2 separate regions of the Homo sapiens genome follow, and region 2 is linked to region 1. Evidence: fine-mapped expression QTL. A gene starts in region 1. The other region holds a variant in brackets. All regions are shown on one strand. Distances are between the middles of the regions.

What was found.
Region 2: its variant is fine-mapped to the expression of GAS6-AS1 in atrial appendage (GTEx, PIP above 0.99). The same link has a PIP of 0.9 or more in fibroblasts, left ventricle and transverse colon.

Annotation. Positions count from the first base shown.
Region 1 is chr13:113,809,965-113,821,731 of GRCh38, reverse strand. It overlaps GAS6-AS1 (GAS6 antisense RNA 1), which reads right to left and starts at 6,122. Exons shown (of 5, transcript NR_044995.2): 1 at 6,041-6,122. TMEM255B (transmembrane protein 255B) reads right to left here. Exons shown (of 9, transcript NM_182614.4): 9 at 4,737-9,996. The coding sequence ends at 9,829. GAS6 (growth arrest specific 6) reads left to right here. Exons shown (of 15, transcript NM_000820.4): 15 at 714-1,183. The coding sequence ends at 868. It also overlaps LOC124903220. RefSeq lists enhancers at 1-40, 590-1,139, 5,699-5,818, 5,879-6,118, 6,169-6,238.
Region 2 is chr13:113,833,293-113,845,059 of GRCh38, reverse strand. GAS6 (growth arrest specific 6) reads left to right here. Exons shown (of 15, transcript NM_000820.4): 5 at 5,210-5,332; 6 at 6,869-6,991; 7 at 9,425-9,547; 8 at 10,388-10,509. GAS6-AS1 (GAS6 antisense RNA 1) reads right to left here. Exons shown (of 5, transcript NR_044995.2): 2 at 11,481-11,568; 3 at 10,296-10,376; 4 at 6,813-6,983; 5 at 2,219-2,691. Among named protein-coding and RNA genes, the nearest start is that of GAS6-AS1, 24 kb to the right of the region's middle. RefSeq lists enhancers at 5,053-5,629, 5,801-6,353, 7,009-7,068, 6,908-7,460, 7,569-7,778. The variant G/A (reference allele first, on the strand shown) is at 5,076.

The DNA.
Region 1 (11,767 bases):
ATTGGCCTGAGTCAGGCCCCACGAACCTGCATCTTCAGGGAGCATTCGTCCACACCCATCAGACCAGCCCCGGGGGAGAGGGCTGGGCAGACCTCGGGCCAGGCTGCAGTTGGGACCCGCGGCTGTCACCGCAGCTGTTAGCAGCGAACAGAGTGACCGCCAGCCCCTCCCATGTCCAGCAGGGCGTCCTGCCGTGTCCCATGGGCTACACAGCACAGAGGCTGGGACCGGGGATGTCCTTGCCATGAGCTGGGAGGGTCAGCGGAAAGGCACGTGGGAGCCGGCAAGTCCTCGGCTGCCCGCAGGTTTTCACTTGCGGCAAACGGCAGGATTTCTCTCTTGGCTGCCAGACACAGACTCCACTTAGTTTTAATAAACAGAGCTTTGAAGAGGATGAGAGCGAGCCAGGAGGCCTGCAGCCTGAATGACTCACTGGGCACAGAAGAAGATCACGTTTAACCGATGGGACTGTCTGTGCTCCCAGCGGGGAAGGGAGGGCTGGCGTCTGCAGAGCCCAGGCTGGCAGATGCCTCCTGCTTGTCTGCCGGGTCTGCGGCCAAACGAACGGGGACCGAGAAGTTAGAGAAGAAAGGGAAACCCTGCCCTTTCGGAGGGAACCCGGGGCTGGCCACAAGCGCTGCCGGGGGTGGGGGGGCCAGGCGGGGCCGGCCACGTGGTGAGCTAAGATATGTTGTTCTCTCCCTGCGGCCCAGATGTGCCGGTGACTTCAGCGCCAGTCACCGCGTTCTACCGCGGCTGCATGACACTGGAGGTCAACCGGAGGCTGCTGGACCTGGACGAGGCGGCGTACAAGCACAGCGACATCACGGCCCACTCCTGCCCCCCCGTGGAGCCCGCCGCAGCCTAGGCCCCCACGGGACGCGGCAGGCTTCTCAGTCTCTGTCCGAGACAGCCGGGAGGAGCCTGGGGGCTCCTCACCACGTGGGGCCATGCTGAGAGCTGGGCTTTCCTCTGTGACCATCCCGGCCTGTAACATATCTGTAAATAGTGAGATGGACTTGGGGCCTCTGACGCCGCGCACTCAGCCGTGGGCCCGGGCGCGGGGAGGCCGGCGCAGCGCAGAGCGGGCTCGAAGAAAATAATTCTCTATTATTTTTATTACCAAGCGCTTCTTTCTGACTCTAAAATATGGAAAATAAAATATTTACAGAAAGCTTTGTAACACCGCGTGGCCGTCATCTGCTCCCCGCGGGGTTCTGCACACGTAGCAGCGTTTGGGATGAGCGGGGCTGCCAGGGCTCCAGGCCGCACCCTCAGCCGCTCCAAAGATCCCTCCCTCTTTTCTGCTCCCAGCCTGGTTGGGCAGCCACGGTCTGCTCCCCAGGAGCCTCTGACTCCTCTGGTAGTGGCGGCAGGGGCTGGAGCCTCAGTTTACTTGTTCTGTAAATGCGGAGAACGCCCTGCTCGGCCCCCACCACAGGCAGCCAGTCATTGCTGAGTGAGGAGGGCTTGGCACACAAATGCAGGCTGCTGGGGCAGCGGCCTCTGAGCCAACCTGGGAGGGACCCCGAGCTGGGACCGAGGGCCGGAAGACACCGAGGCAGCGCCTGCACCCCTGTGCCATTCCCGTCCCCACCCTCCTGCACAGATCCACTTGCTTCCGGGCCTCAAGTGTGTTCTGTTGAGAAAGGGAAACTGCTTTCTCTGTGTCGGTCTGGGGTAGAGCTTGCCAGGAGCAAAGCCAGCCCTGCTTCCCGCGTCCCCACTGGCAGGGTCCCCATGTCCCTCAGCCTCAGCTTCCTTGTCTGCAAGGGGTGGAGCGGTCACTGGTGCTCTCTGACCCCAGCAGGCCACAAGTCTGCAGGGAAGGTCAGGGCAGCCGGAACGCGGCCAGGCAGGTGCCTGAAATGCAGTCGGGACCCTGCCTGCCTCCTGGAAGGATGTCGGAGCCGCAGCTGGTGGGGGCCACGGAGTCACTGCTTCTCCTTGGTCCCAAGGGGACGACCAAGACTCATGGCTTGACGCTCCCGTGGGACGCGGCCACCTGTGCTCGAGCCTCTGGGCCAAACATGGGTCCCCAGGGTGGATGCGGTCACTGCAGGGGCCACACGGGGGATCAGGGAGGGTTTCAGCTCTGAGGCCCAAACCAGGATTCCACTTTAAGACCAAACCCCCACCCGTGCTCGGAGCTCCCTGGGCAGGAGTGAGACGGGGCAGCTCGGAGCAGCCCCACCTCCCACCAGTCAGTCCCAGAGCTGCGCCCACCGGGCAGGACAGGCTGTGCGTCGGGGCATCTTTGCCTCTGCCTGGCTGGGGTCAGCACTTGACCTAGAGAAAAGTCGGGTGGAGAAGAAGGATAGAATCCATGAGAACCCATCCAGGGATAAATCGCCACAAATGAACTGCAAAGAGGTTTCTAGAAAGAGGCCTGTGGCTTTGAAGGCCACAGGGGAGGCCCCGCTGGCTGGACTGACAAGGTGGCATCGGCCGAGTGGGCTCCTGAGGGGCAGCCTCGGGCCGGGAAGGAGCGGCTTCCCTCTGGCCCCCGGCCTGACGGCTGTGGAATGGGCAGAGCTTCTCCAAGGCTCGGGAGCCAGCAACACTCATGCCCACCTGGAGGGACCCTGCCCGCCTGGGCCGAGCTCACCCCACGGATGGACGGCCAGCCAGGCACCTTGCCAGGGGCCATGCACAGGGGGCCCCATCCCCTGCCGTCCAGAGCCGCCCAGCTCGTCTACGCTGGAGCCTCCAGGCCCTGGTGGTCCCTGAGGGTCCCTGGCAGGCCCACCCTGTGTCTCTGGGGCTCTTGTTGACCGGTGCCAGTTATGGGCTCCTCGGGCCACATCCCATGACCCTGCGCCATCGTGGGCATGATGCCACTTGCTCTGGACACGCCGGGCAAGGGCCTCTTGTTCTCCCCAAAATCTTGGCAGCACCTGGGCAGAAGTTCTGTTGATTGAGGGCTGCAGCCTGAATTCAGGACTTCAACCTAGTCTAAGAGGTATTGCAGGCAACTTTCGCTTCGGTACCGTGAGAAAATAGTGACGGGGGAGGCCCTGGCCTCAGAGGGCAGACGTCAGGCTCCTGCCGGCTCCCTTCGGAAACGTCCATCTGCCGCCAGCGGCCCCGCGTGTGTGTGACGGCTCTCGCCAGCCTCGCCCAGCAGCACGTGGACCTTCCGCAGGCAGATGCGCTTTCTCCACTCGGGCCGGGACAGATGGCCACCGGCTGCTCACACGGTCGGGGACCCGCAGCCCAGGCCTCCACGCTGGCTCCGGGATGTCCAGGTGCTGGTTGGGCTGAGGATGGTCGGGCCCAGGGCTCGGATCTGGCCATCAGCACAGAAGCCCAGTTCTGGGAGGCCCAGGCGTGGATGCTGACGGCTCGCTAAGCAGGCCAACTCGTCTGACCCCGACGATGCCAGAGCCAGCTGAGCAGAGCTCCAAGAAGCCCGTGGAACACAGCCCCCTGGGCCCCAGGAGAGCCCTGCACTGCCCACTGCACGGCCTCACACGGCCACAGGGGCCACAGCCGCACGCTGGGATCCCAGGCTCCAGCCCGGCACCGCGGCGTCCCTCAGATCCCGGCCTCCAGCCCGGCACCGCGGTGTCCGTCAGATCCCAGCCCGGCACCGCAGCGTCCCTCAGATCCCGGCCTCCAGCCCGGCACCGCGGCGTCCCTCAGATCCCGGCCTCCAGCCCGGCACTGCGGCGTCCGTCAGATCACATTGGTGGGTGCCCCCCAGTGCTCTCCCATAATGTTCCCCAGCCGGCTGGGAGCCTGCTCCTGCCCAACCTCCATCCTCCCCAAGTCAAGACGGCCAGGAGCAAAAACAGGCAACGGCCAGTCTCAGGGACAGAGACGTGGGGAGGCCCCCACAGACACAGGCTACAGTCACCAGTGTCCTCAGGACACAACCCTCCGCCTGGGTTTCTGCTCTGCCTCCAGACGAATCAGGAACTTCTGTTTCCTAGTATTGTTTTCTTAGAGTTCCGGGGGTGCCAGAAGTTATAATAACCACTGTCCCAAACAAGCAAAACCAATGGTGCTAGGAATTGCAACACAGAGGCCCAGCCAGGCCTGTCACGTTGGCGACCTGGCACCCTCCACAACCAGGCATGTCTGGGGTGTGCAAGAGGATGGGAAGACAGAGCACGTGGTGCAAGTGCTGGTGCCCTGGGGAGGCAGGAGGGATGTGCCCCTTAGAGGGAGGAGGGATGTGCGCCCTGGAGGGAGGAGGGATGTGCCCCCTGGAGGGAGGGGTGATGTGCCCCGTGGAGGGAGGGGGGATGTGCCCCCTGGAGGGAGGGGGGATGTGTTCCCTGGAGGGAGGGGGGATGTGTCCCGTGGAGGGAGGGGGGATGTGTCCCGTGGAGGGAGGGGGGATGTGTCCCCTGGAGGGAGGGGGGATGTGTCCCGTGGGGGGAGGGGGGATGTGTCCCGTGGGGGGAGGAGGGATGTGTCCCGTGGAGGGAGGGGGGATGTATCCCGTGGAGGGAGGGGGGATGTGTCCCCTGGAGGGAGGGGGGACAGCCCTGACTCTGGGCTGGAGAGGAGGAAGGAGGTTGGGCATGTGTTTTGCAGGTGGGGTCCTTTGATGTGGCCGCGTCCTGTGCACAGCAGATGCAGCATCGCCCCCTCCTGGACACCCAGCCTCATGACAACACGAAATGTCTCCAGAGGTTGGCCACTGTCCCCTGGGCCCGGGCACCTCTGGGGAAACACTGCTCTAAGCAAGAAGGAACGTTTCGTCCTACTTCACGTAATACGGCAAATATGAACATCAGATTTTTAAATGCCAACGGAAGCATAAAGCAAATGTACAGCCGGGCTAATCCCAGCACAGCCCATTTGTAGGAGAAGCTCCAGCCACAGCCCCTGCCTGCAAAGCAAGAAGGGTCACCTGCCCCAGGGTCAAGGACTCCACGAGGGGAGAGGGGGAGGGTCCGCTCCATGGTGCCCTTGTTTCAAGCACGTTTTCTGCTTACTGAATTCCATCAGTTAAAAGGTCTAGGAAACAGAAAAGGAAGTGGCGCGTGTCGCCGTCTGAGGATCTGCTGACGGGCCCCGGCCTCGTGGAATCCTCTTCTGCCTCTGTGGGTCTCCAGAGTTTCGGAGGCATCTCTGCTCCCACCGCGGGGTCTGGTGGCCACGGGGTCCCCAAGTCTGCAGGAGGAGCTGCTCTGTGTGGCGAGGGTGATGACCATGGCTCTTGTTCACTGAGCAGGGCCGGTGGCCAGCACTGTCCAAGTCACCAGTGCAGCCCCATAAGGCCATCTTCACAACATCCTTGGGGCCCGTTTCTCCCACTCCCGTTTCCATGGAGATGTGATTCACACAGCAATAGCCACGCCTCATGAGTGCAGAGCATGGGTCGGTGGTCAGTCCATCCACGGGGCCGTCCACCCATCACTGCCATCTGGCTCCCGGACACTCCTCTTCCCACAAGAACTCGTGTCCCTGACCAGTGACTGCACCTCTCCCCATCCAGAACACGCTTAGAACACACTTGCCTCCCCGAAAAGAACTCGTATCCCTGACCAGTGACTGCACCTCTCCCCATCCAGAACACGCTGCAAACACGCTTGCCTCCCCGAAAAGAACTCGTGTCCCTGACCAGTAACTGCACCTCTCCCCATCCAGAACACGCTGCAAACACGCTTGCCTCCCCGAAAAGAACCCGTGTCCCTGAGCAGTGACTGCATCTCTCCCCATACAGAACACGCTGCGAACACGCTTGCCTCCCCGAAAAGAACCCGTGTCCCTGAGCAGTGACTGCACCTCCTTTCCCAGTCGGCTTCTGTCTGTGGACACGCCTTCTCTGGACACTGCATATAAACAGAACACAGTCTTCATGTCTGGTGTCCTTCCCTGAGCACTGTGTGTTACAGCCTCAGCACCCGTTAGAGCTTCCTTCCTCTCCGTGGCCGGGTGACCCGCGTGTGGATGGGCCACGTCCTCTCCCTCTCTGTGGCTGGGTGAGACCCGCGTGTGGATGGACCACTGTAGTATTCTGTTTTCACACTGCTAATAAGGACATACCCGAGACTGGGAAAAAAAGAGGTTTAACGGGACTTACAATTGCACATGGTTGGGGAGGCCTCAGAATCACGGTGGGAGGCAAAAGGCACTTCTTACACGGCAGGAGCAAGAGAAAATGAGGAAGAAGCAAAAGCGGAAATCCTGATCAACCAGTCAGATCTCGTGAGACTTACTCACTATCACGAGAATAGCACGGGAAAGACCAGCCACCATGATTCAATTACCTCCCGCTGGGTCCCTCCCACAACGCGCAGGAATTCTGGGAAATACAATTCAAGTTGAGATTTGGGTGGGGACACAGCAAAACCATATCACCCATGTCCCTTCCTCTCTCCGTGGCCGGTGACCCCATGTGGACGGACCGTCACCCATGTCCCTTCCTCTCTCCGTGGCCGGTGACCCCACGTGGACGGACCGTCACCCATGTCCCTTCCTCTCTCCGTGGCCGGTGACCCCACGTGGACGGACCGTCACCCATGTCCCTTCCTCTCTTTGTGGCCGTTGGCCCCATGTGGACGGACTGTGTCCCTCCCCCACTCAGTAGTTGCCTCTGCTTGGGAGCTCTTGTGAGCAGTGCTGCTGTGTGAAATGTAGAAACTGAGGCAGGAGGAGACTCCCTGTAACCCAAGGTCCCAAGCTAATAAGGTGGGGCCAGTCTCAACGGACCCCTGCCCAGGGCAATGCTCTGACCCTGCCCTCCTCAGTCACAACCTGCAGCTACACTAGGCCCCCACCTCTGAGCTGCAGGAGAAGCCTGTCTCCTGTGCTGTCCCAGTGAGGCAGGGAGTGCAGGTGGGGCCACAGCACCCCAAACCCCCCAGCACCCCCTGCCCCGGGGCCACAGCACCCCCAAACCCCCCAGCACCCCCTGCCCCACCATCCCCTCCACCCCATCTCCCGCGGCCTCCAGGGTCTCACTGACCTCGGCTGTGCATGGGAACCAAGTGAGGGCGGGATTGGGAGCCCATCCCTGCAGAGGAGGCTGGGATCAGAAGGCCCCAGCGGAGCCCAGAGAGGGGGTTCATCAGACCGTGACTCAGGCTGGCAGAGCTTGGTGGCCCCAGACAGGATCCGTCCACATGAGACAGGTGCACCTCGAGAGCAGCCGCCGCCCACACTGCAGGCCAGGCATTGGCCGGAGCCCTGCGCCAGGTGGGAGCTGCCCTGGGACCTGGGGGACCCTCCAGCCACCACGAACCTTGAGTCAAATTGTTCACATTCTTTGTGGCTGGGATAAAGGATAAGGACATTTTTGTGGCAAGAACAAAACTGTTGACCTTGGAGTTGAATATTTTTGAACAGCTTTTGACTCTAGACAAGATTAAAAGTCGGGAAAGATCGATGTTGTGTTTGGGGGAAGCTGGTGAGTGCAGCCTCGGGGAAGCACTCTGATGCCCCCACACCGCACCCTGCGACCGAGGGCTGACATGAGGGGAAGGAGGGTTATTCCTGTGACTTTGCTGGCCAGAGCTCCAGGGGGCATAGACTCCCTGCCCAGACCTGCAGTTCAGCTTCTCTGCTGTTCGCACCCCTAGGACACCAAGAGGTGCTGGTGCCTGCACCAGGCAGCTTCGGGGGCACAGCCCGAGCTCCAGGGTGCCCAGGAACCGCCCACACAAGACCACGGCACCATCGGCGCCCATAGAGCCTTCCCTGAGGTAAAGTGAGAGCCCTGGGGACTCGGGAAATCCGTGGCACACTTTTCTTCCCCCACAGGCGCTCGTGAGTGCATCTCCCGGCGCTCCAGAAACCTCTTGGTCTCTGCTGCTTGTTCAGCTTCTTACTCGGAGCCAGGCACCCACAGCCCTGGAGGAACTGGGCGGTGATTTCCAGACAGGACGCCGCACCTCCGGCTCGTGCCCGACCTCCCGGACTGGTTCAAGGCCAGTCAGCCCTGAGAGGCCAAGACCACATTCTCCTGGACAGCAAGCTTGTGAGGCTGGATTTTATAAGATAAAAATGACAAGCAGTGGCGGGTTCACAGACCAGAGCTGGCTGCAGGCCTTTCAGAGGCCCGTTAGGGCCCCTGGGCCCAGCCAGCCACCGTTCATGTGTGGATGTGCGCTGTGGGCCTTCTGCCCAGGAGCGCTGGACACAGGATGAGACCCTCCGTCGGGCAGAGGGAGGCTCCCGGGCAGCGGAGGGGGCAGAGGCTGTGTGAGACCCTCCATCGGACAGAGGGAGGCTCCCGGGCAGCAGAGGGGGCAGGAGGCTGTGTCTGCACGAGTGTGGCTCCCCTCCACCTTATCTTTTTTCTCCCAGATCCAGGACTGGGCAGGGGAGAAAGTCCCCGCTCCACCTCCCAGGTGGGCACTGTTCCGTGAAGTAAGCTGGAGACCTCAGACCCACACGGGAGAAGAGCGGTACTTGTTTATCGTAGGCACGGGGGGCTTTGCAGGGAGGGACGTGAGGCCCTGAGAGCGGTGAGGCCTGGAGGCGCCAGCTTCCGAGGGGAGAGGGAGTGACTGGGGAACCGTGAGCGGCCCACAGAGCAGAGACGGCGACTTGGTGTCTTGTGGCACGTCTGGGGAGCAATGGGATCACCTCTCGCCCGCCCTCCCGCCCTGGGAGTCCCTGGTTCCCTGAGGATCTGACTTCAGGAGTTCAGAGAAAGCCTCTCCCCACATCCAACACTTTTCAAGAGACTTCGGCTACTTTGGGGTGGCGCATCCTGAACTCCTGTCACTGGGGCGCCTGTGACCCACCCGGGACCCGTGACCCACTCGGGACCCGTGACCCACCCGGGACCCGTGACCCACCCGGGGCCCGTGACCCACCCGGGACCCGTGACCCACCCGGGACCCGTGACTCACCCGGGGCCTGTGACTCACCCGGGGCCTGTGACCCACTCGGGACCTGTGACCCACCCGGGATGCCTGTGACCCACCCGGGACCTGTGACCCACTCAGGACCTGTGACCCACCTGAGACCTGTCCTGTGACCCACCCGGGGCCTGTGACCCACCCGGGACCTGCTGCTTCCCAGGCGTGCTCACCCGTCTCCCCAGGTGTGCCCGGCAGGTGCATGCTGGGCCCGCGGGGAGCTAAGCTGGTTTCCACAGGGAGTGCTGCGGCCCCAGACCCTGAGCCAAAGGACCCCGAAACACCGTCCCCCACCATCCCAGCGGCCAGGGGTCCTGAGACAAGGTGCGGTGAGGGAGAAGCCGCGGAAGGACAGCGGAAGCCCAGGCGCCGTAGCTGGGAGACAGCTCAGGGGAAGACCCTCGTGCCAGTGGCCCAGGCAGATTTGCATCCGGGGCTGGGAAAGACAACCGGGCCCCTGGATTCTAACAACTCACAGGCGGTTAGACACAGCGCTGGGCGTTGGAGCCGAAGCGTCCTTCCCTTCCTGGCATACGTCAGGAGCACAGCACGAGGGGCGGGTGGCTTCTGCCCTGCGCTTCTCCAGGACACAGATGCACACACGAACGTGTAACGCACAACACATGTCCACAAACAAGAACACACAGGCAGGGAGGCCGGGGCTGCACTGTCTTTGCAAAATCATAATAATAGCTAATTAATTAAGGGATGTGAAAACACCAGAACAATTGCTCTCAGAGGAGGAGGCCGGGTGGGAACTTTCAGCGCCATTTGATGTGAGCAGAGCCCAAGCCAAGGTGTCACCAGCCTGGGTCTGGAGGGCCCCACTCCCTGCCTGGTTCCAGCCTCCCTCACCAGTGTGCCCAGGGAGGAAAGGAGGGGACAGACTTCTGGAACATTCTCCCGGGTTCTCTAGGAGGTTGGCCACAGAAGCGGGATTTCTAGAGGCTGCCTTTTTTTTAAAAAAAAAAACAAACAAGTTATCTTTTACTCCACGCCTCTATCAGGGTGCGTAGGGGGGTGGCTTCTCCCCCGGGGGAAAGTAGGTGGGTGCGTAGCACGGTGGAGCCTGGCCGGGAAGCCCAGAGCCAGAGCTGCTTGGAGAAGGGGGCTGCAGGTCCTCAGACGAAGCCAGGGCAGAGGAGGGCGCAACTGGGAAGCGGCTGCAGGGCTGCAATAAACAGAGAGGGCCCTGGGTTAGCAGGTGAGACCACCCCGTGCCGGACCACAGGGAAGCCTGACATATACCAGGGCCACTCACACGCTCCCCACCCACCCCGCCAACCCAGGGCCACCCGCAGACTCAGGGCCATTCACATGGGCCCCCCGCAGACCCAGGGCTATTCACACAGGCCCCCTCAGACCTAGGGCCACTCACACAGGGCCCCCCGCAGACCCAGGGCTATTCACACGGGCCCCCCACAGACCCAGGGCTATTCACACGGGCTCCCACAGACCCAGGGCCACTCTCACGCCCCTCCCCTCCCCCGGAGACCCAGGGCCACTCTTACGTCCCCCTCCCCCACCGCAGACCCAGGACCTCTCTCACCGGCCCCCACCCCACAGACCCAGGACCACTCTCACCGGCCCCCCCACAGGCCCAGGCCCACTCTCACGGGCCCCCACAGACCCAGGACCACTGTCACGGGCCCCCACCCCACAGACCCAGGACCTCTCTCACCGGCCCCCCCCACAGATCCAGGACCTCTCTCACTGGCCCCCACCCCACAGACCCAGGACCACTCTCACGGGCCCCCACCCCACAGACCCAGGGCCACCAGAAGGAGCAGCCCCAGCCCGGGGCAGAACAGGAGAGGGTGGCCGGGGCCTCACTGGCACAACCTTGGCCTCCACAGCTGCATGGGGCAGGGGGTGGACGCCCCAGGAAGGGTGTCCTCAGACCACATCCCACTTCCTCACAGCCAGCGAGCCTCTGACCTGACTCCAAAACCAACAGTTAGGGTCCACCAGGCCTGGGGCCCCTGGGCTCACCCAACTCTTCATATTTGGGAAAGGCCCCACGTATGAACCCCACACGTCCACACGTCCAGCAGCGTGTGGCTGGTTCAGTGTCACCGTGGCTGACTCAGCGGCTCACACACGCATCTGGGTGTTGCCGTGGAGGCATCTTCAGGTGTGATTGACACCCTTGCGTACAGTGCCTCAGCCCCTGGACACGGACGGCCCCTCCTCTCCACTGAAGGCGTTAAGGAAAGAGGCTGTGGTCCCCAGGAGAAGTGGACTCTGCCCCAGTGGCCTAGGCACTCCCGGGGCAGCGTCACCCTCCCTGGTCTCCAGCCTGCCCCCTCCCTGTGGTTGTGCACCTGAAGCCCACAGTCATCAGCCAGTCATTCAGAATCGATGGATTGATCTCTCTCTTCATATGTAGGTACCTGTATTCTCCCATAGGCTCTGCTTCCCTAGAGAGCCCTGACTAACACACATAGACCCACCCAAGTAATTCTGAGACCAGAAAAGCGAAGAACGGCACAGATTTTAAATTGATACATTCTAGTTTTTCTCCAACTGCTAACACACATCTTAATTCTTTTCTTTTTTTCCCCTTAAATTCTAGGGGGAACTTCTAATCAAATTTTAAATAAATAAAGCAAACAAACTCCTTCTAAGAAATAACACAGGAAGAGTTTTTCAAACTCCAAGCTACCAGATGTGCTCTGTGCTCCTCTTGCCCCAGCCTGCAGGGTCCCATGAGAAGCCAGCTGCCTGTCTGAGCCTGCGTGTTCAGCATCCCCAGAGAAGCCAGCTGCCTGTCTGAGCCTCTCCCTGGAGAGCTCTGCACTGCAGACGCCCTGGGAGCTAGCAGGACCTCTGGATCCTGACAGCAGAATTTCTGCACAGGTGTAGGTAAGGCTGAGAATGGGGCCCTTCCTCAGAGGGACTGCAATGTTGAGGTTGACAGCCCAGGCTCATGGGATCCAGTG
Region 2 (11,767 bases), 23 kb before region 1:
GAGGAGACAAGCAGATCCTGTCACGCGTGTTTTATCTTAGTGATTGCTAAACCAGTCTCTTCTTTTAAATTCTGTATTCACACTTGTTATACTCTCTTAGTTCCTGGGCTTTAGGCTTCTCCCCAAGATTACAAAACAGTTACCTGCTGTTAGGTGTTTTCATCTGTGACCCGCCCGTAATTTCTTTTGACGTGATGGATGAGGTGGGGATCTAGACTGCAGGCTCAGTTCCTGCCCCAACACCACACATTTGAGTCTGTCTCACCCCAGTGCCTCACCTGCTGCCGTCCTCATATGCTGGGTATTTGGGAGATTTTCTGCCGGGTTTCCACAGGCCGTGGCCACAGCTTTAGACTCGGCCTCATGCACGCGGGTGGGTCTCCTATGCCCTCCTCAGTCTTTTTTCTGGTTGTCTTGCTTATTTTTTAATAAAACTAAACCTTAAAAATATTCTTAAAAACCTAAAAAAGCCCTTTAGATATTTTTAACTGGGCTTGCCATTCATATATCGGAGACTGTGTCTGAACAGTGTTGCGCTTTCCTAACCCCGGCACCGTCCTGTCCGTCCCTTGGAGCACTTTTCTTCCTGTGCGTCCCGTGCTTCCTTTGCTCAGTTCACTTCTGGCTATTTGCAGCAAAGAAGGCCGTCCTTTTCAAGGCGTCGCCTCGCTTCCTTGCATGGATGAAGAGGAGTGATTGCTACATGTTCCTTTCTGTTCCCGCCGCCCAATAGAGTTATCTTGTTTTGGTTATTTCCTTTGTGGCATCAGCGTCCCCAAGTGCGGCCAGCTGGGGAGAGGAGGGCAAGGTCAAGATCCTTGAGTTTGTTCCCTGTGTGATAGGAAGAGAATCTCTTGCTGTGGCTGGTGCCAGAGGCAACACATGCAGTTTCTAACGGGTCCACCTGCCCCAGGCCAGAAGCTCCGGCCACTCTCCCTGAGCCGGCCCTCAGAGGCTGCCCTGCCTGTGGCCTGGGGCTCTCAGCTTCTCCTCCAGAGCACGTGGCTGGGGCCTCTGATGTTCGCGTGCCTCAAAAGATGCCTGGCGGTGAAGAAGGTGCTTTGGTGGCCTGGCCACAGCAGGCAGCCTTGCACTCCCTTGGGAAGGCGCCTCCCGGAGGATGCAGCTGGGGCAGCCTCACACTCTGTTCCTGTTCATTGGTTCCCTCGTGAAAATTCTCTGACTTGGTGCTCACGGTGCTGTCCTGGCTTCAGTTCACTGGTTATCGGTCATTGTGAAATTAAAGCCATAGCCCCATAAAGTCCAAATTCAGCCCCAGACAAGCAGGCCCCCAGCGGGCCTTGCATGGGAGCCTGCGGCCCTCAGGCTGTCCCAGGACCCAGGCGGCACAGTGGACGGAGGGAGGAGGCCTGGGAAGAGTGTAGGCTGCGTTCCCAGGTGCCCCTGAAGAGCCTCTGCTTCCATTTCTTTCCTTTCCCACGGACACACCCAGCTTCTCCACTGCGAACGCGCCCGTCCTGCCATAGCGGCCACTTGGTGCTTGGATTTCTCGGCTCCTTTGACCCATGGGTTTCCCCAGGAAGGTCAGGTCCCCACAGGCGGTGGCCCAGGCAGCGGTCACTGAGCCCCGGCTACCGGGATCCCACCCCCGCCACGGGGAGTGTCCCCTCGCCCTTCCCTCGGGCAGACAGGGCTCTGGTCCTCGCTCGTCACCACCCAGGGAAAGGCCCTGGCCGCCCGCACCGGCTTCAGATTCCAGCCACAGCCACAGCCGCTCCCTCCTGTCCTTCAACGCAGTCATGGGCCAAGCTGAGATAAACCCTTCACCTCCTGAACAGGCGCTGGCGCCCAGGGCATGACCAGCCAGGCCACCGATACCCTAGGCCCAGCTTGCGGGATGGGGATCAGGGAGGTGGGCGGGGGTCAGGGAGGTGGACGGGGTCAGGGAAGTGGGTGCCCTCGGGGGCCTGCAGAGGTTTCTGTCTCCATCGCTTTCCCTGTTGTGTGGAGGAAATTCCACAGATATTTGCTGGGCACCGGCTGACTGTCCACCCCTCAGGTGTGGTTCCGTCCTTGCATCCTAGAGGTATCAATACATTCCCAACAGGGAAATAAACAAATGAGTTGGGGGAGGCCCCGGGGCAGGTGGCATGAGTCTGGGGACCGCTTAAGAGCTGGGCACCTGGCAGGAGCAGGCACTGTCCCTCAGCCTCAGGGACAGAGGTCTTTCCGAAAGGCATTCCAGGCAAAGTCAAGACCGGGTTCCCAGCCCTTTGCATCACATGGGCAGGTGTCCACTTCTGAAATGGCTTTAATCTCTAACCAAACATCGTAGCGGCAGCGCACAGCATCCCCCAGACATCCCTCCATGGTGGGGGCCTCTGAGGAGGTCAGGTTCTGGTGCCGGAGGGTTGGGCCCTGCACAGGCCGCCTGCCCTGCACGTGTCTGACTCCCTCCTGCCCCCAGAGCCTCTTCATCTGAGGCCAGGGTGGAGAAGCGGATACGCCCCTCATTTCTCTAGTTCAGGCCAGACCTCCCCGTTCCAGGCCCTGCTATGACCACATCGACGTCTCCAGACGCCCCGCGGACACAGCACCCAGGTACAGCCGGGCGACAGCAGTGTCAGGGATGGGGCCCCGGCCGGCTCCTGGCGGCTGTGCTGATGCAGAATCCCTGGTCCTGGTCCTCGTTTCCTCGTAACTCCGAAGGCCAGCCCCAGCCCCTGTGTGCTTCAGAGTAGAAAGCGTTTATAGTGACCTGCTGAAAATAGCATCTTAGAAACACTTCGAGACGCGAGCTCCGTCCACACCCACAAGTGTTCTGTTGTCAGTCATTTGTGCAAAACAAGCAAACGGAGGTGTAGGGAGGAAACTGTGGGGTGTACTGAGGAAACTGAGGCTTATAGAGGAAACTGTGAGGCAGACGGAGGAAACTGAGGTGTATGGAGGAAACTGAAGCATACAGAGGAAATTGAGGCGTATGGAGGAAACTGGGGCGTATGGAGGAAACTGGGGCGTATGGAGGAAACTGGGGCGTACAAAGGAAATTGAGGCGTATGGAGGAAACTGGGGCGTATGGAGGAAACTGAGGCATATGGAGGAAACTGTGGGGCGTACAGAGAAAATTGAGGCGTATGGAGGAAACTGTGGGGTGTATGGAAGAAACTGGGGGGCGTATGGAGGAAATTGAGGCATATGGAGGAAACTGTGGGGTGTATGGAGGAAACTGGGCATATGGAGGAAACTGTGGGGCGTATGGAAGAAACTGTGGGGCGTATGGAGGAAACTGTGGGGCGTATGGAGGAAACTGTGGGGCGTATGGAGGAAACTGGGGGGCGTATGGAGGAAACTGGGCATATGGAGGAAACTGTGGGGTGTATGGAGGAAACTGGGCATATGGAGGAAACTGTGGGGTGTATGGAAGAAACTGGGGGGCGTATGGAGGAAATTGAGGCATATGGAGGAAACTGTGGGGTGTATGGAGGAAACTGGGCATATGGAGGAAACTGTGGGGCGTATGGAGGAAACTGTGGGGTGTATGGAGGAAACCGGGGCGTATGGAGGAAACTGGGGCATACGGAGGAAACTGTGGGGCGTATGGAGGAAATTGAGGCATATGGAGGAAACTGGGGCATACGGAGGAAACGCGGGTGTACGGAGCAAACTGTGAGGCATACGGAGGAAACGCTGTGAGGCATACGGCGAAGCGTCGCAGAAAGAAGCCAGTGTGGTTGGGCAGCTTCCCCAAGAAGCCTGGGACTCGTAGCCAGGGCCTCTGGTGAGCGCGGTGCCTGGACCCGCCTAGGAGGACAGGGGCTGTGTCTGTGCCGGCCACAGGCAGTGACTGTAAGCCCTGGATGAGCTGGAGGAACTCAGCTTTGTGAACCACAGACCCGCCCGCCGCTCACCCTGGCACCGGGCACCCCTGACCCCGGCCAGGTGGGGATGGAAGCGGCTCCTGCACTGACAGCCGAGCCCAGACCCTCTGGTGGAAACGCCACATTCTACAGACCTGGTGGGAAACGTCACCTTGGGAGCCTCAGGAACAGAAGCGACACGCTGGCAGTGAGAGCCCATGCACTGAAGACTCGACGTGCCCCCACCAGGGCTGACCCCTTAGGACGATGCTGGCCCAGTGCCCTAGGGCCCTGCTGGCCCGGCCTGCACTTTTCCCAGGGACTGGTCCTTATTGAACTTGTGTGGAATCAATGGACCGGAGCCCTCTCTCAGCCAGCAGGGGGGCCCTACCCAGGGTTCCCCACGGAGCCCTGTGTGGCTAAGCTGAGCGTGGCTGAGTCCTCATGTGGGGCTGAGCTGAGTGTGGACCGCGCCCCTGAGCACTGCCATGCTCAGCCCCGAGCTGCTTCTGCTCTGCCAGCAGCCATGAAAGGATTCTTTGAGCTCCGGGTGTAATTGTCGTTCTTTCTGCCAACTTCCCGGGGCTCAGGCTTGCGTAACTGCACTGTCGGGGGCTTCCCTGCCTGCCTCTGGGACGTGGTTTGGGTCCGTGTCCTGGAAGCGTGTTTGTGAGCAGCTCCTCGTATGAATGTGTTTGTGAGCAGCTTCTCGGATGGGGGACTGCTTGGGAAGCAGCTGCACTGGCACGGGTTCCCACCCTCAGGCCCTCACCCGTTCCCCTGACCTCTGGCCCTGCAGGAGCTGAGCCCAGGTGACCACCCTGAGAAAGGGCAGAACACACCTGGCCTAAAGCCATCAAGACACGTGGAGAGGGGGCAGCTAAGCAGAAAGAGGGGGGCTTCCTGGAGGACCCCTCTGGCAGTGCAGCCTGGGCCTGGGGTCCTCCCCGCCACACCCAGCAGGGAGAGTTCACCAGAGATGGGCTAGGGGCTGGCCAGGGAAGGCAGAATGTTCCGAGTCTGCCTGGAAGCCCCCAGGTCAGCTGGGGGTTCTGTGTGCCTACTCCCTGGGAGGTCTGAGCTCCCAGGCCTCACGCCAGGCAGTTCCTGCTCCTTTGCCCTCAGCCCTTCCCACCTTGCGTCCAGGCCTGCTGGCACTCCCTCCCAGTTGATCTGAGTTTTCCTGGAGCCGGCCCCAGGGCCCGCCAGCCTATTCTGTCAGCCCTAGGCCAGCACAGAGGGCTCGGGTGCCCAGGG[G/A]CTGCCTCAGCCTGCGCCCCTCAGAGCTCCTCCGGGCTGGACCCGAGACCCCACAGCCGCCCCGATCTCAGCTGCGTTGGGCGCGCAGGGGTGGGGCAGCTGAACATGATTTTCCACTTTGTGTCCCCAATCAGACCTGCCTGACCAGTGCACGCCCAACCCCTGCGATAGGAAGGGGACCCAAGCCTGCCAGGACCTCATGGGCAACTTCTTCTGCCTGTGTAAAGCTGGCTGGGGGGGCCGGCTCTGCGACAAAGGTACGTGAGGCTGAAGACAAAGGCGGGGTCTCCCTCCATCTCCGACCCTGCCCTGATCCCCGCTCCTCACTCCCACTCCGGGGCACGGCCATCCTCAGGCTGCTCTCCGACAGCCCCAAGGAGGCTGCAGCCCTGAGGTATCCTGGAGCCCCAGGAGAATTGGGAGGAGCTGCAGTCTCCTTTCTGGGAGCAGGGCTGGAAGGAAAGGAAACACCAAGTGATGCCTCAGCACCCACTGATTGAAGGGCGGGGGGGGAAATTTCACCTCTGACCGTCCTTGAGTGCAGACCTGTGGTGTCAGTGGCACCCACTGATTGAAAGGCGGGGGGGAAATTTCACCTCTGACCGTCCTTGAGTGCAGACCTGTGGTGTCAGTGGCACCCACTGATTGAAAGGCCGGGGGGAGATTTCACCTCTGACCGTCCTTCAGTGTAGACCTGTGGTGTCAGTGAAGACCCTGGAGGAAGAATAGCTCCAGGGCCTGGTGGAGACCCATAGTGGAGAGCCCAGCAGGCCAGCCTGTCCCCTTTGGCAAATCCTACCCCACAGGTGGCCTGGGAGGGCTTTGCTAAGGAGTGGCCAGCTCTGGCCTGGCCTTGTCTGTCCTCGGCACCCAGAGGTCACTCCTGGCCTGCAGCCTCCTCCTGCAAGCACATGGGCATCCAGGGAGCTGAGCCCTGTGGGCTGTGACTGCCAGCAGCTCCCCAGGCTGAGACCGCAGCTGGGGATCCCCCATGCCCTCCCACCATCTACCTCCACACGCAAGGCCAGGACCAGGGGCCATGAAACGCTAGGGCTGCTGAGTGGGGTGTGAGGTCCAAGCCCTGGGGTCCCTCTCTGCTCCAGGGCTGGGCTGTGCACCTCTAGGATCTCTCTCTGCTCGGGGGCTGGGCTGTGCACTCCCAGGCTCTCTCCCTGCTCCAGGGCTGGGCTGTGCACACCCGCGGTCCCTTCCTCCTGCTCCAGTGCTGGGCTGTGCACCCCCCCGGCTCCTTCCCTGCTCCAGTGCTGGGCTGTGCACCCCCGGGCTCCCTCCCTGCTCCAGGGCTGGGCTGTGCACCCCCGGGGTCCCTTCCTCCTGCTGCGGGGCTGGGCTGTGCACCCCCGGGCTCCCTCCCTGCTCCAGGGCTGGGCTGTGCACCCCCGGGGTCCCTTCCTCCTGCTCCGGGGCTGGGCTGTGCACCCCCGGGCTCCCTCCCTGCTCCAGGGCTGGGCTGTGCACCCCCGGGGTCCCCTCCTCCTGCTCCGGGGCTGGGCTGTGCACCCCTGGGCTCCCTCCCTGCTCCAGGGCTGGGCTGTGCACCCCCGGGGTCCCTTCCTCCTGCTCCGGGGCTAGGCTGTGACCCCTGGTCTCCCTCCCTGCTCCAGGGCTGGGCTGTGCACCTTTGGGATCTCTCTCTGCTCCAGGGCTGGGCTGTGCACCTCTGGGCTCCCTCCCTGCTCCAGGGCTGGGCTGTGCACCTCTGGGATCTCTTCCTACCGTAGCCAGGGGCTGTGCACCCTTGGGCTCCCCTTCAGGCCTGTGCTTGTTCCCAGATGTCAACGAATGCAGCCAGGAGAACGGGGGCTGCCTCCAGATCTGCCACAACAAGCCGGGTAGCTTCCACTGTTCCTGCCACAGCGGCTTCGAGCTCTCCTCTGATGGCAGGACCTGCCAAGGTAAGGCCCTGGGGTGAGGCCTCTCTCCTCTCTCCTCTCCCCACCTTCTATTTTCGGTCATGTCTGCTCTTCTGCAAGCGGCTGCTGCTGGCTGGGTTCCTGTGGTTCTGGATGGGATGGGGCATCCTGCAGAGACTACACAAGCCCAGGCCAGCCGCAGCACAGGGAGCTGCTCGGCACCACACCAGGATGACTCACCCGGCATCTGAGGGCCAGGACTCAGGGGGCCGGCCCAGCCCATGAGGCCACACTGCTGGCTGTAGGGCCTCGTCCATTCCCCAGAGCCTCACAGAGCCTGGAAGTGCTCCAGGCACTTGTGTAGTGAGCTTGTGGGTCAGGGCTCCAGGCTAGGGTCCCCCCGCCGTCCACTCTCCCCAGCATCCCCAGAAGCACCCCGTTGTTGGTCTCCCTCTGTCCACTAAATATAGCCCTGCCCTCCCCACTTCCTTTCATATTTCAGTCTGGGGTTCCCTCAGCCCAGGGCCAGAGCTGGGGAGCCCCAGGACACCCCAGAAAGTCACTGTGAATGTGCGCGCCCCCGACGCTGTTCCAGGTGCTGCTGCTGCCACTGGCCCTTTGCCACTTTGCAGGGGGAGCACCTTCCTCCTCCCTCCCCACGTTGTATCTGGACATGCCCAGGCGTGTCCCTGAGAGTTTCTGGCATAGTTCTTAGCGCTGCTGCTGACTGTCCAGGACACCGAACTGCGTGGACAGGACAGACAGTTGCTCAGGGAGAAACAGCCCCAGGATCTGGAGAGTGAATCTGACCAGACAGGAGGGGCCACACCCCATCCCCCGATTTCAAAAGGCAGCTGCTATTTCTGTCCACTTTGGTGGTTCCCTTCCCTGACCACCCAGGAGTTAGCCCTGTGTGCAGATGACGTGATTCCCATCTTAACACATAAACCCATTTCCCCGCCGAGGACAGAGCCCCTCCCATCACTGCTCTATCCCTGACCTGGAAGACAGCAGCACCCCAGGTTTAAAGAGAGGTGAAGACTAGGCCGATCCTGAGAGATGACGTCTAAAGCATCTCCCGTGGGTCCCTGCACCAGTCGGGCACTCCCGGCAAAGTCTAGGCTCACAGTTACTGCCCACAGTGACAGAGGCATTCCCGTCCTCTCCTCCTCCTCCCCATCTTCCTCTTCCTCCCCACCATTCCCCCTCCTCCTTTCCCCACTCCCCCTCCTCCTCTCCCCACTCCCCCTCCTCCTCCCCCCCACTCCCCCTCCTCCTCCCCATCTTCCTCCTCCTCCTCATCTTCCTCCTCCTCTTTCTTCTCCTCCTCCCCCCACTCCCCCTCTTCCTCCCCATCTTCTTCCTCCCCCTCCTCCTCCTCATTCCCCTCTTCTTCCTCCTCATTCCCCTCTTCTTCCTCCTCATTCCCCCTCCTCTTTTTCCCCCTCCTCCTCCCCCATCCTTATTTCCCCTCTCCTCCTCCTCCCCCACCCCTCCCCACCCCCTCCCTCACCCCTCCCCACCCCCTCCCTCACCCCTCCCCACCCCCTCCCTCACCTCCTCCCCCACCCCTCCCTCACCTTCTCCTCTTCCTCCCTGCTTCTCCTCCTCCTCCCCCTCCGTCGTCCTCCCCCTCCGTCCTCCTCCCCCTCCGTCCTCCTCCTTCCCTTCCCCATTCTCCTCCCCCTCCCCCTCCTCCTCCCCCTCCTCCTCCTCCCCCTCCTCCCCCTCCTCTCCATCCTCTCCCTACCCCCTCCTCCTCCCCTCCTCCCCTCCCCCTCCTCTTCTCCCCCTCCCCTTCTCCCCCTCCCCCTTCTCCCCCTCCCCCTTCTCCCCCTCCTCCTCCTCCTCTTCCTCCTTCCCCTCCCCCCTTCCTCCTCCCACTCCTACTCCCCCTTCTCCTCCCCCACCTTTCTCCGTGCCCCTGCCTTTGCTCTCCTCTGGTGACTAAAGGGCTCTTCATTTCAGGGTTGCCCCTCCTACCCCAGGGTGCTTGGCCGTAAACAGCATCTGTCCCACATTAGATGCTCAAGTCTTAGGATTGTGGTTTAACCCGGTAGTGAAAATTGATTGAAACCAGTAAATGCTTCTCTTTGGGGTTGGGGTTTTAGTTTCAAATGCCCCCGGGGGGTTACTTTTTACGGCCCCGTGTCCTGTAGCACCGTCATTTAAATGGAACAGCACAGCGTGCACCGCCGCCCCCCACCCCTCCACCAAGCAGGGCCCTTCCCAGCTCTCCACCTGCTGGGCTGAAGTCAGCCTTCCCAGCCGGGCCTTGATCAGAAGCGTGCACCAACACCCCGGGAGCTGCCCGGTCAGGGGAGGAGGGCAGGGAAATGGGGCCAGGGCGCGCTGGCCCCACAGAGTCTGGATGCGACCTCTGGGTGGTGCCCTGGCCAGTCCCTGCAGCCGCCTGCCCCAGCCCCGTCTGAGATGCCGCTGTGCTGCGGTTGGCCGGTTTTTTTTTGCTTGCAGACATAGACGAGTGCGCAGACTCGGAGGCCTGCGGGGAGGCGCGCTGCAAGAACCTGCCCGGCTCCTACTCCTGCCTCTGTGACGAGGGCTTTGCGTACAGCTCCCAGGAGAAGGCTTGCCGAGGTACCCACGCCACGCGGTCACCCTCGCTTTCTCTGACGCCCAAGTCTAGACACGGGTGCCAGTCACTGCCCGAGCCGGTTGCTAACAACCGGGTGCTTCTGGTGAAAGAAAGTCTCTTTCTCCCTGTTTCTATCAGCCTGGTAATGGCCTGTGCTACCACCATGCCCGCACACACGTGAGCACACACAGGCACCCATGCCCCTTGTGCACATGAACGAACCGCACACATGCATATACACCGCATGTACACACGTGTGTACCCTTCTCCACCTGCATAGACGGGGCCTCTCCCCAAAGGGACGGGGAGCAGCAAGCCTCCCTCTACTGTTCTCTCTTTCCAGCCGCCATGGGGAGGGCCCTGTTGGCCGTAGAGCCTCTAAGAGGGGCCGTGCCCCCAGTGATGGGAACAGTGGGGCTGAGTAGGCAGACAGAGAGGGTGGGGAAGCCCAGGCTGCCTGCACTGACCTCCATTTCCCACCACAGCTGTCGGCCCCTCTGTGCTCCGGGGGACACCTCACTGCACAGCCCAGACCCTGTGCTTCCCAGACCTGCCTTCCACACCGGCCCGGCAGCGGGGGTGGGTCTGGCTCGTTGGGAGCACCCTCCTGGGACACCTGCGACATTTTTATTCCCTCAAGAAAGAGCCCGGGCAGGAGCAGGCCGAGGGTGCAACCTAGCTTTCCAGTGGGGGGGGACGCGACCCCCAAGCCGCCCCCGTTAGAATCTGCATGTAATTCCTTGAGCGCACCTTGCGTGTGGTTTGAGCAATCGCGGTGTGATCCCACGGCGGGACAGCGTAGAGGCCTCCCCGGCTCACCGCCGCTTCCCTCTGGCTGGCAGATGTGGACGAGTGTCTGCAGGGCCGCTGTGAGCAGGTCTGCGTGAACTCCCCAGGGAGCTACACCTGCCACTGTGACGGGCGTGGGGGCCTCAAGCTGTCCCAGGACATGGACACCTGTGAGGTAGGCGGCCCCTGGCCCCGCGGGCCCTTCACGGTGGTTCCGGGGGCCCTCGCCGGTGGGGGCTTTCGGGAGAAACACTTCCGTGAAGACCTGGCCTTTGCTAAGGTGTTGGGGATCTCCAGGGCCATGTGGAGGTTTGGGATGAGAAACGCTTCTGTTCCCTGGAAGATGTTTGGTTGTATTTATAGAGTCTCTATGGCAACTCCCAGCTCACAGTGGATCAGCCTGGTGTGGACCCCAGTGTGACACTCACGGGGGCACGGTCCCCACTCTGCCGCGTGCCAGGGAGCCAACGTGACCGACCTGTCACACCGGTGCCTGTCACACCGACCTGTCACACCGGGGCCTGTCACACCGGTGCCTGTCACAGCATGACCTACCTGTCACACCGGGGCCTGTCACACTGGTGCCTGTCACACCGACCTGTCACACCGGGGCCTATCACAGCATGACCTACCTGTCACACTGGTGCCTGTCACACCGACCTGTCACACCGGGGCCTATCACAGCATGACCTACCTGTCACACCGGGGCCTGTCACACTGGTGTCTGTCACACCGACCTGTCACACCGGGGCCTGTCACAGCATGACCTACCTGTCACACCGGGGCCTGTCACACTGGTGCCTGTCACACCGACCTGTCACACCACTGCCTGTCACACTGACTTGTCACACCAGTGTCTCACACCGACCTGTCACAACAGTACCTGTCACACTGACCTGTCACACCGGTGCCTGTCACACCACTGCCTGTCACACTGACTTGTCACACCAGTGTCTCACACCGACCTGTCACAACAGTACCTGTCACACCGACCTGTCACACCGGTGCCTGTCACACCACTGCCTGTCACACTGACTTGTCACCGGTGTCTGTCACACCGACCTGTCACACTGGTGCCTGTCACACTGGTGCCTGTCACACCGACCTGTCACACCGGTGCCTGTCACACCGACCTGTCACACTGACCTGTCACACCGGTAGGAATGCAGTACCCACATGTGGACGTTTCTGGGCAGGGCGGCTCTTGTCTTTCCTCTTCAGCCTGGGCCTGTGCCTGGGGGTTGATGAGAGTGAGCATTTATTTAAAAAGCAAAACCACAGGTGGAAAGAGTCACCAGGACAGCTTCTCGGAGTCGCAGACCTGGGATGCAGCCGTGGGGCTCTTGGGTCTGGGCTGCGACGTTCAGGGCTTCCAGCCAGCCCTCGCCTTGAGGTTCTTTGCCTCGCTGCCTCATGTACTCATGCAGAGGGTG